2 separate regions of the Homo sapiens genome follow, and region 2 is linked to region 1. The links come from fine-mapping of genetic effects on plasma protein levels. A gene starts in region 1. The other region holds a variant in brackets. All regions are shown on one strand. Distances are from middle to middle.

Region 1 (5,379 bases):
CAGAAAAAGCTGTCTCCCGAGTAGTTGGAATTACAGGTGCATGCCACCATGCCTGGCTAATTTTTGTATTTTTAGTAGAGATGGAGTTTCACTATGTTGGCCAGGCTGCTCTTGAACTCCTGACCTCAAATGATCCACCCGACTCGGCCTCCCAAAGAGCTGGAATTACAGGAGAAGCTAAACGTTTTAAAATAAGTATATTATTTCTGAATTACTATAACAGACATGGACTCCATTTGAACAAGATACTTAATTCCATCAAAAACTTGTCAAAATATACAAATTTAGTCACAAGACACTTTACTACCATCTACCAAAGCTGTAGTAAACACACACATTTTCCATCTTTGAAATGAAATAACGTATAATAATGTTTTCCAAAATAACAAAGATGTCTGCAGTGAATAGCACTCCCTTTGATGTGGCAACTGGGTCAATCGTGTTAACAACTGTGAATTCATCTTTTTAAGAAATTCTTTTATTGTTTCTTTTCTTTTCCGCGACAGTCTCACTCGTGTTGCCCCGGCTGGAGTGCAGTGGCGCTATCTTGGCTCACTGCAGCCTCCGCCTCCCGGGTTCAAGCAATTCTCATGCCTCAGCCTCCTGAGTAGCTGGGATTATAGGCACGTGCCACCACACCCAGCTAATTTTTTTGTATTTTTAGTAGAGACGGGGTTTGACCATGTTGGTCAGGGTGGTCTCGAATTCCTGACCTCAGTTGAGCCGCCGGCCTCGGCCTCCCAGGAAGTGCTGGGATTACAGGCATGAGCCACCAGGCCCGGCCTTATTGTTTCTATTTGTAATAAATCTGTTCCCCTTGCTGCTGTCTCTGCGTTAGTTCTCCTCATTTCTAGCTTGGGTGCTGCAGCAGCCTCTGACCGGTCCTTCTGTCTCCAGCCTGACTGCGTTTTCTCGCACCTGCTGGGCTGTCTTAGGGCCCCGATGCCGGTGGCGTTTGCCATTCTCCGTCTGCCTGAGGCGTCCTCCCTCCGTCATCTGACAGGCAAATGTTACAGCCCTTCAAGACTTAGGCATTACCTTTCCCGCGCGGCCTTCCCTTCACTGTGCCTTACAATCTTCTCCATGGCAGGACATAGTGAAACTCCGTCTCTACCACTCCGTCAGTACCTGCCACAGGAAATGGCGGGTTTACGGATTTGTTTATAAGTTTATTTCCCCAATTGGTTGTTTTTCCATCTTGCGGGGTTTACATCGTCTCCTCCTCACTTGCGTGGCAGCCTGGACGCATCTCTATCACAGCACATTACCTCGTTTCGTGACCACAGCGTAGTCTCTTCCCCATCCTCAGACTGAGTTAGGGCCCCTTTGAGTCAGGTATTTGCCTTGCTAATCTTTGTGCCCTCTGTGTCTAATACGGTGCTTGGTCCTGGTAGATTTCTCCTTGCTTGCATAACATGTGTCTTCCTGGCTTATTCGATTTCTGGAAGTCTAGAACTTCTCCCCAGTGTTTCACCTGCCTGCTGAGTCAGGGCTCTCGGCCCGCTGGGGAGCATTTTGCTGCACTTGTCATTAGCCACAAAGCCACTAGGGGGCAGGGAGCCCCCATCCTGCCTCAGATCGGTGCCAAACCAGAACCCGGCAGCCTGCCTTCTGCACGGAAATCAATTCTCTAGGAGCTGATTTGCTGAAAGATCATTTTGCAAAATGGTCAACTCAGCAAATAATCGACTTGCTGAATCTTTGAGGAGTTATTTGCAGCTTCAGTTTTACTTAGAGCAATCCCTGGATGCTTAATATTTCATTTAAGAATGAGTGAGCCTTTTCTTCTCTATTTTGGGGAAACAGTTTCTTGCTGAGCCTCTGCCTCTGTTAGTACCCCAGCGGGGATGAACTGCAGTACCTGGCTTCGGGTTTTTGTCTTTTCATTATAATGAGTTGGTTTTATGTGCGTTGACCTACTGTAAAGGAAGGGTGGGGTTCTTCCAAAATAGATCCTCTTTCAATGAGGAGACAGGTAGAGTGGGACATGGGAAGGGCTTTGTCAGCTTTCCCCATCAAGATGTGTCCTGTGTGTCCCCAAAGCTCTTCTTGAGCCATCCCAGCATAACCAGGGTTTCCCTCAGGTTCATAACAAGGTAGAGCAGTCCTCAAGGCTGGCGCATGAAGACCAGTCCAGGGGGAGGGTGGATCCCTCGGGATGTGATAGGCTGACAGCAGCTCCCCAAAGCCTGTGGTTTTGACTACTGTAGAGACTTCATATCTGAAGCATGCCCCTCTACTTCAGCCACCCCCACTGCTCCTCCTTCTGCGGGGTCCCTTTGGAAAGCTTAGCACCACCTCAGACATTTGGAAAACTAACTTGAGCTCCAGTCCCTCGAGGCCCTAGCCTCTGCATCCTGTGAAGAGGGCCCTGCTGTGCAGAGCGCAGAGGGTCCCGCACTCACTTGGATGAACCTCTAGGGCATTCTGCTCAGTCTCAGGAGGGCAGACACTGTGGGACTCCACTCACATGAGTATCTGACGTTGCCAAAAATCATAGAAACAGGCCGGGTGTGGTGGCTCACACCTGTAATCCCAGCGCTTTGGGAGGCTGAGGCAGGTGGATCACTTGAGGTCAGGAGTTCAAGACCAGCCTGGCCAACATGGTGAAACCCCGTTTCTACTAAAAATACAAATATTAGCCGTGTGTGGTGGCGGGAACCTGTAATCCCAGCTACTCGGGAGGCTGGGGCAGGAGAATTGCTTGAACTCGGGAGGTGGAGGTTGCAGTGAGCCGAGATCACACCATTGCACTCCAGCCTGGGCGACAGAGCAAGACTCTGTCTCAAAAAAAAAAAAAAAATCATAGAAACGGAAAGTAGAACGGTGGTTACCCGGGCTGGGGTTCGGGGAGGTGAGTTGGGGTGTAATGGGGAGAGTTTGGGTGCTGCAGGATGAAAAGTCCTGCAGATCTGGCACACAACCATGTGAATGTACTTTCTACTGTGGGCTATACACTTAGAAATGGTTAGGATGGTACTATTAATGTTACATCATTTTTACCCTAGTAAACATTTTTTAAGAAGTCTTCCTCCGTGTTTGACTTCCTTATGAAGTAGAGACCAGGTAGTTTGGACACTATGTTCTTTCACAAAAGGGATTTCATTTTGTGAAATATTTGAAAGCATCGAAGTCTAGCATTTCACGTTTTGCAAGCTGGGGAAAAGCATTCATTCCCTGAGAAGCAGCGTTGGTCTGTCAGGCTTGGAGTTCCCCGGGTTGTGGGTTTTAGGGAAGGGAAGGGAAGCGAGGAAGGACTTGTGAGAGGAAGTCCTAAAGGCCACTTAAGGGCACACAGAGGCCCGGAGCTGGCTTTGCTCAGAGCTTGTAGCGGCGCCACAATCTCTGTCCTCTCAGGAACAGGAACTGGCTTGACGTCCTTTTCCTGCCCTATCCAAGCCCCTGTTCTTGCAGCCCTTCTGAAGCTCAGCCTGGCACCGGCCCCGGCGCCCCAGCCCCTGGCCAAGCCTCTGCTGTCATTTCTCCTCCCTCCTCTCAGTCTGCAGCTGCGGGACGGGCCGGGCTCCTCAGTTTCTGCTGTGTTGTGACCCCACGAGGCGCTCAGCACCCAGGGAAGGCGCGTGTGTCCCCGATGCTGGCTCCTCCCTGAGCCCCGACGGCTCTCGAGGTTCTGAGCCTGTGGCCTGCACAGGGAACTTCCTCTCCGACTGCATTTATGCCTCTGTGGATGTGAAGGCTATTTCTAGAAATCTCTTCCTTTGCAGAAACACCCGAAACCCTCCTGCCAGGAAGACCAGGGCCTGGGAAGAGGGTCGCTCTCCGGCCATTCTCCCCTCACCCTCCTCACCTTCCTCACATCCTGTGCCCTGGGGGACCAGCAGCTGCTTCCACCCAGGTGAGAGATGGAGGGATAGAGCCAGGTGGATTGCGGAGCCTCGGAGACTGTGGGACGCCGTGGGACCCCATGGGACACGACCGCAGTGCATGTGTGACATGTGCACTCGTGTGTAGATGTGTGTGCACTGGTGCATGGCTGTGGGGGAGGATGGGCTTGGCACCGGGAAGGCAGCCTGCTCAGCCATGGGAGAGGAGGCTGGGTTGAATGGCAGGGTTGAATGGCAGAGTTGAATGGCAGGGGCCCTGGGAAGCTTTCCTCCTGGTCCAAAGCGTGTCTCCCCAGCCTGCTGGGGAGTAGATTCGGCAGGATGGGGACAGAGGCATATTCCCAGACATCTATGAGAGTGGCTGTCCTAAAAGAAGGCGTGTCGGGGAGTGGGTGTGAGCCCTGAAGAGGAGGAGGGCTGAGACTGGCAGAAGGGAGGAAGAAGCAGGCGGAAGCAGCCGGTCAGATGCCCCATGAAGCTAGATGGTGCCGCAGAGCAGCCCCCAGGAGGAAGCCAGCGGAGCTCCTCCCGCAAAGCAGGGGGTGGGGGATGCTGATTTTTCCACGTCTGCTTTTCTGATCTTTCCTGCCCCTTGCACAGTTAGGATTCTGTGAACTGGGCATTGGAGGGATTGGAGGGGTCAAGACCTTACCAAAAGCAATATTTCTGATTTCACCTACATTTCAGCCAACCTGGTCCTCAGCAGTTAACCTCTTCCCTTCCTCTTGATGGTTGCCCTGCTGGGCTGGGTCTAAGGTCTTCCCCACGCTGGGCTCTGGAGGCATCTCCAACCACCCTGCTCTGTAAGTGGGAACTGCGATTAGATGTGGGATGAATCCCCGCATGGCTGGATGCTGTGCTCAGATGCCTGAGTCCACGTTTGCCTTGGGCTGTTTCCTGAGAAGGAGGCAGAGGCTGCCTTTACAGTCTTCAGTGAATTATAGGAAGAACGCTCTCTTTTTCTCTCAGTTGCTCTGCTGGGGTCTCCAGAGTGGCCTGGGAAATTGAGCAGAGGGAAATGTGGGCTGGCAGAGCGTGAGTGAGGGTGAGTTTGGGTACCTTTTTGTCCTTAAGTGCACTTTCTACATGTTGGGGTGAAGTGCTACTGGCTGGGAAGCTGTATGTGTGGTAGGAGTGTGCATGTGCGTGTGTGTATGTGGGTGTGTGTGTGTAGGTCCTGACATCATGTGGAGCTGCAGGCAGGAGTCCAGCCAAGACTCATTGGTTTGGTCATACTCTGCTGGGGAACCATGCAAGGCTGTGTCGCTTAATTGGGAAAGAAATTTCTTTCTTCTTCAGACCTGTGGGAGGCCTCTGCTTCCTTCAGCTTGCTGTTTTCTCACTAGTGTCTTTTTTTCTTAAATTAATTTACAGAGACATCTCACTTCACTTGCATATATATGTGTGTGTGTATGTATATATGTATATATATGTATATATGTATGTATATATGTATATATGTGTATATATGTATATATATGTGTGTATATGTGTGTGTGTGTGTGTGTGAGATATATATATATATATATATATA
Region 2 (5,379 bases), 17 kb after region 1:
ATGTGCTATTTATGTATGATGGAGCCACAGATGGAGCCAGATTGTTTTCTTTAAAATTTTCTAAATATACCAAATTCTTTAGAATAAACACTAAACTTCATAATCAGAAAAATATAAAGAATGAAGAGGTTATGGCACAGAGTGATCAGATAATGAGTGTAAGCACATTGTGAATTGGCAGCTAAGGGATCTTTGCCCTCTGCTGGAGCAGTTTTGATGGAGTGGTACCAATCTGTCCCAGTGACTGACTCCTCCCTGGACTCCCACAACATTGTCCTCATGTGTGTCACATTCTTATCTGCTTGCTGCATCTATGCCTTTTATTTGTTGTTGTTCAGTCTTTTCATACAAGTGACAAAAAGGATGCTGGAGCAGGCTTGGTGAGAACAGGAAGGGAACCCATCAAGGGGCAGAGACACTAGAAAGGGTGTGAAATAACATGAATAACTTTCTGACTTCACCATGGACCATGGAGGGGTGGCCATCCAAGAGGGTGCTGTACGAAGCTTTCATAGGGAGAGCCACTCTCTTGTAGATCTGCATAGGTAAACCTTCCCAGGTGAGGGCATCATGGCCAGCTTTGCAGTCTTGGAAACTAAGTTTTTAAAGAGAGGAACACAGGATCCCTGGTGTAACCCTGTGTGGGAATCACAGCTACTTGCTGATGTACCCTAAAGGGAAAACCTGTGATTATGGTAGAGGGGAGTTTTTTTCCTCGCAGCGACAGTTTTGCCATGAATTTCCAGGCCTCACTTGATTTCAGGTCAGGGTCTCTTGGGCAATCCAGAAGAAATTGTACAAGGCAGGATGACTGAACAGGTACAGCAAATCAGCTCAAAACATATGTCAAACAAGGTGGGGCCTGAATAAATAAATACAGATGAGTAGTTCACTTGGCTGGAGCATACAGTGTGTTGAGGAGAGTGGCTACAAGTAGAGCTGACTCTGTGGGCTGGAAACAGATTGCAAAGAGCTTGGCACATTAGCTCAAGAGTTTTGGGTTTGACTTGCCTGGCAGGTGGAAGCCTTTGCAGGGAGAATATTAAATCCAAGCAGCACTATCTATATACTGAAATCGTACCACTTTGCATTTAGGTAATATGTGGAAACTTGCAAGGTACTTTCTCATTTGTCATCTCATTTGAGTTTTATAAAAATATCCTTGAAGTAGGTAATACCGCTTCTATCTTATGGATTAGGACACTGAGACTCAGAATGGTTAAGTGGCCTCTACAGATCTCAGCTAATGCGTGCAGAGCAGAAGGTGAACCAGGTCAGAGTCCAAGACCATGGTCATACCCACCACATCATGCTTCTCTGTTAACTTCACCTGGCACTGGGTGCATCACGAGTCCCACAAATGAAGTTTTCTAGTTTGTCTTCTGTGATATTATTTTCAGAGTATCATGTATACCATATATTATATTTGCTTGTATGCTCTAGACATTTCATTGCATTTTATAGGGCAATGCTTCCCAAACTTGGCTACTCATTAGAATTACTGTGACATTTGATGAATACAGATTTCTAGGATCTTTCCTTTGAGATTCTGATTTAATAGGTGTAGGTTGGGTCCCAGAGATCTGTATTTTTTAAACATCTGACCATTACTATTAATTATGAGATTTCCTTCAACTTTGAAACATGCTTATTTAGTATGGTTTCTAACATATCTGACTTCTTGTGGTTCCTAATGGTAAAAAAAAAAAAAATTTAAGGAACTAAAAGAGATCTCTAGGTTTGTCTCAGAGATGAGGGAACAGGAAGATCCTGGGAAAGTGTTTCTTGTTCTAATCTAGTCTGGGTCTAGAACTTCAGTAGCTCAAATTCATTGGCGGCAATTTGAGTCAAAAAGAGAATGTCTTTTCTTGCTGTTTTCCTGTCCACTCTGTGTGGGAGTTGAACATTAATGTGTTGTTTTCTGTCCCAACAGAACAAGCGGGAGCCTGTGTCAGGAAAGCATGTCAGAGCAGAGCTGCCAGATGTCCGAACTGCGGCTCCTCCTCCTGGGAAAATGCCGCTCGGGAAAAAGTGCCACAGGAAATGCCATTCTGGGCAAACATGTGTTCAAGTCCAAGTTCAGTGATCAGACAGTGATCAAAATGTGCCAGAGAGAGAGTTGGGTCCTGAGAGAAAGGAAGGTTGTGGTAATTGACACCCCTGACCTTTTCTCCTCAATAGCTTGTGCTGAAGACAAGCAACGCAACATCCAACACTGCTTGGAGCTCTCTGCTCCCAGCCTCCATGCTCTGCTCTTGGTAATTGCCATCGGCCATTTCACAAGG[G/A]AGGATGAGGAAACAGCCAAGGGCATCCAACAAGTGTTTGGAGCTGAAGCCAGGAGGCACATCATTATTGTCTTCACTCGGAAGGATGATTTGGGGGATGACTTGCTGCAAGATTTCATTGAAAAAAACAAACCTCTCAAGCAGTTGGTTCAAGACTATGAGGGCCGATACTGCATTTTCAACAACAAGACCAATAGTAAGGATGAGCAGATCACCCAGGTGTTGGAGCTCCTTCGCAAGGTTGAGTCTTTGGTGAATACGAACGGAGGACCCTATCATGTGAACTTCAAAACTGAAGGCAGCAGGTTTCAAGTAAGAATTTTGTTAATATCTTGAAAGATCTCTATGTTGCTGAACTAGTGGGATGAAAGTGGGTATAAATAAATGAAATATTGCATTGTGTGATGGAACATGGGTTTTGTTTAATAAGATATTTATATATAATTTGCAGGAATAAGAGGTATCAGATTTTAGGGTACTTTAATTATCAGCCTAAGGACTTTAGGCTTTATTAGCAAATTAATGGACAAATTTAAGCCTTTATCTTACTTGGTCCCTCATATTCTTCAACACACAATGATTTGTTTGACTCTCTCTTCCCCTGACTTCAATATAATTGCCCTCTCCTTGTTCATTTGTTTTATTTTTCCCTCTTTTTCTGGCTATTCCAAAGATCGCTGAGTCCTTCTCTAATCTCTGACGTCTAAAAATGAACATCCTCAGGGCTTGGTTCTGGCCTTCCTCAATTCTTTGTACTCTCTTCTCAGATGATCCCACACTTTTATGGCATTGAGCTTCATCTACTACTAACGGTTTTCAAATGAGTAGTAACTCTAGTCCAAATCTGTCCTCTGAGTTCTGCCTCCTTTACACAATTGCTGCTTGGGGTCTCCACTTGTCTCTCTTATACTTTCTCACACTTAATATGTCCAAATTTTTGATTTTCTCTTTTAAATCTATAAGACTTCTCCTTCATGCTTCAGAAAAGGGCTGTGCTGTTCACCATGCTCTTTGTACCCACACCCCAGTGTCAGCTCTGCTACCCTGGTAGCTCCCCTTGGAGAGCCAAGAAATCATCAGGTCTTGCGGGATCAATATACCCAGAATCCACCTGCTTCTCTCCATCCCACTCCCACCACCTGGTCCAAGCCTACATCGTTTCTTGCCTAACCTATTTTAACGTAATGATTTTCTCCTCATGTATTCTTGGGCTGTATCCCACAACCCATCTCACACATTACAGCCAGGGTGAGATTTTATTTAAGCTTTTGATGTGAAAGGAAAATGTATTTGTAACTAAGGAAGATACAAAAATGCAGTCTTTTGCCTTAGAGGTGCTTACACTTTAACTGGAGTGGCTGATGCATAAGAAACAAAGCACTCCTGGCTGAGTGTGAGGGGGATGCTAGCACAGAGGATTTGGCAAGGGGAAGCCCCAGAGGGTGTACAGCAGGCACACACTGAGCCTGATGCGTAACATCAGTTACGCATGTCCGTACTATGGAATAAATTCTATCTACTTAAAGAATGATGTAGTTCTATCTATATTGACTCCTACAGATGTACAGAATGCATTATTAAGCAGATTGTAGAACATATAACTTAATAAGTCTCCATATGTTCATGTATGCTTGTATGTATTTGTATGAACATAGAAAAAGTTAGAAGGATATATACCAGTTAACAACTGTTACTTTCTGGTCAGAGAGAGACTGCTCAGAGGGAAGAGTAATAAGCCCAAGCAGCATGGAAATAAGAGAGAAATCATTTACTGAATGCCCACTAAATTCCAGACAAAGACATAAACTAATTAAGTCCTCGTGACAACCCTATGGACAGATGCTCTACACATGAGGAAACTGAGGCTCAAGAGGGCTGAAGACACTTGCTCTCTTATCTCCTAGCCTGAGTGCTCCCTCCTCTGTGACAATCTGTCTCTTCCTTGAGGGCTGCATGGAACAGGGATGTTAATAAAGAGAAGAATGGGTGTGTAGTAAGTTTCCTACAATGAAACCCTCTGGTTTTACATGCTCCAGTGACTTCCTGCTGATCATAAGGTAAAGTTCAGAACTCTTAATTTGGCTTGACTCCTTGCCCTGTGCTCCGCTGTCTATGCCTTGGTCCTGCTGGCCTTCCTGTTTGCCCCTGAGTTACACTCACATCCACTCCTGAGCCTCAAGCCTGTGATTCTCTCTGCACTGACACTTGCTCTCCCCCATCCCACCCTGTACCAGGTTTGCTTTTATTTCTCCATCTGCATCAGCTAAAAGTCACTTCCTCAGGGAGTCCTCCCTGACCATCCTGGCTCTCAGGCCTTGGAATGAGCCCCACAGCTTCCTTTCCTCATGGCAATGTCACCACCACATCAAGTGATTTCACTGGTTGTCTACCTACCCACTCCATGAGGGCAGAAGAAATCATATCTGTTTTGTTGACTATAGCATCTCAGTTTTGTCTTCTGTAAAGCAGAGATAATAATCACATGTATGTCAGGAATTGCTGTGAGAATTAAATGAAATGCTTACAAAGTCGTTAACAAATGCTTGAAACTTGGTAGGTGTTCAGTAATGCTGTTATTATGATGATGATGAAAATGCCTGAGGATTAAATAAATTAAGGAATCATTAAGAACTTTAACAGCCCAGAGACTGAGTTAGAGCCATACTTTTAGAACTCTATGCCCTGGAAATAAAAAAAAAAAGGTATACCTAAAGATATATGTACAAGAATAGTTAGCACAGCATCATTTGAAACAGTAAAACCAGAAATAAACCGAAGATTGATCAATGAAAAGATGGTTGCATCAGTTACGCATGTCCGTACTATGGAATAAATTCTATCTACTTAAAGAATGATGTAGTTCTGTCTATATTGACTTCTACAGATGTACAGAATGCATTATTAAGCAGATTGTAGAACAAATAATAAGTCTCCATATGTTCATGTATGCTTGTATGTATTTGTATGAACATAGAAAAAGATAGAAGTATATATACCAGTTAACAACTGTTACTTTTCTGGTGGAGTGGGAATGCAAAGATCATTAATTTTTATATTATGGACATTTACCTCATAACAATCTTTTGAATTTAGA

The links. PIP is the chance, under the fine-mapping model, that this variant and not a neighbour inherited with it causes the effect. Protein levels are from antibody-based Olink assays in UK Biobank. Linkage for the fine-mapping came from a reference panel and not from the study's own genotypes, which makes the PIPs less certain.
Region 2: its variant is fine-mapped to the plasma level of the GIMAP8 protein (UK Biobank, PIP above 0.99). The variant lies in the coding sequence of GIMAP8. If it changes the protein, the assay may bind it differently, which can mimic a change of level.

What each region holds. Positions count from the first base shown.
Region 1 is chr7:150,447,320-150,452,698 of GRCh38, forward strand. GIMAP8 (GTPase, IMAP family member 8) reads left to right here and starts at 3,311. Exons shown (of 5, transcript NM_175571.4): 1 at 3,311-3,856. LINC00996 (long intergenic non-protein coding RNA 996) reads left to right here. Exons shown (of 4, transcript NR_034033.1): 4 at 1-821.
Region 2 is chr7:150,464,738-150,470,116 of GRCh38, forward strand. It overlaps GIMAP8 (GTPase, IMAP family member 8), which reads left to right. Exons shown (of 5, transcript NM_175571.4): 2 at 1,934-2,597. The coding sequence starts at 1,962. Among named protein-coding and RNA genes, the nearest start is that of GIMAP8, 17 kb to the left of the region's middle. The variant G/A (reference allele first, on the strand shown) is at 2,286.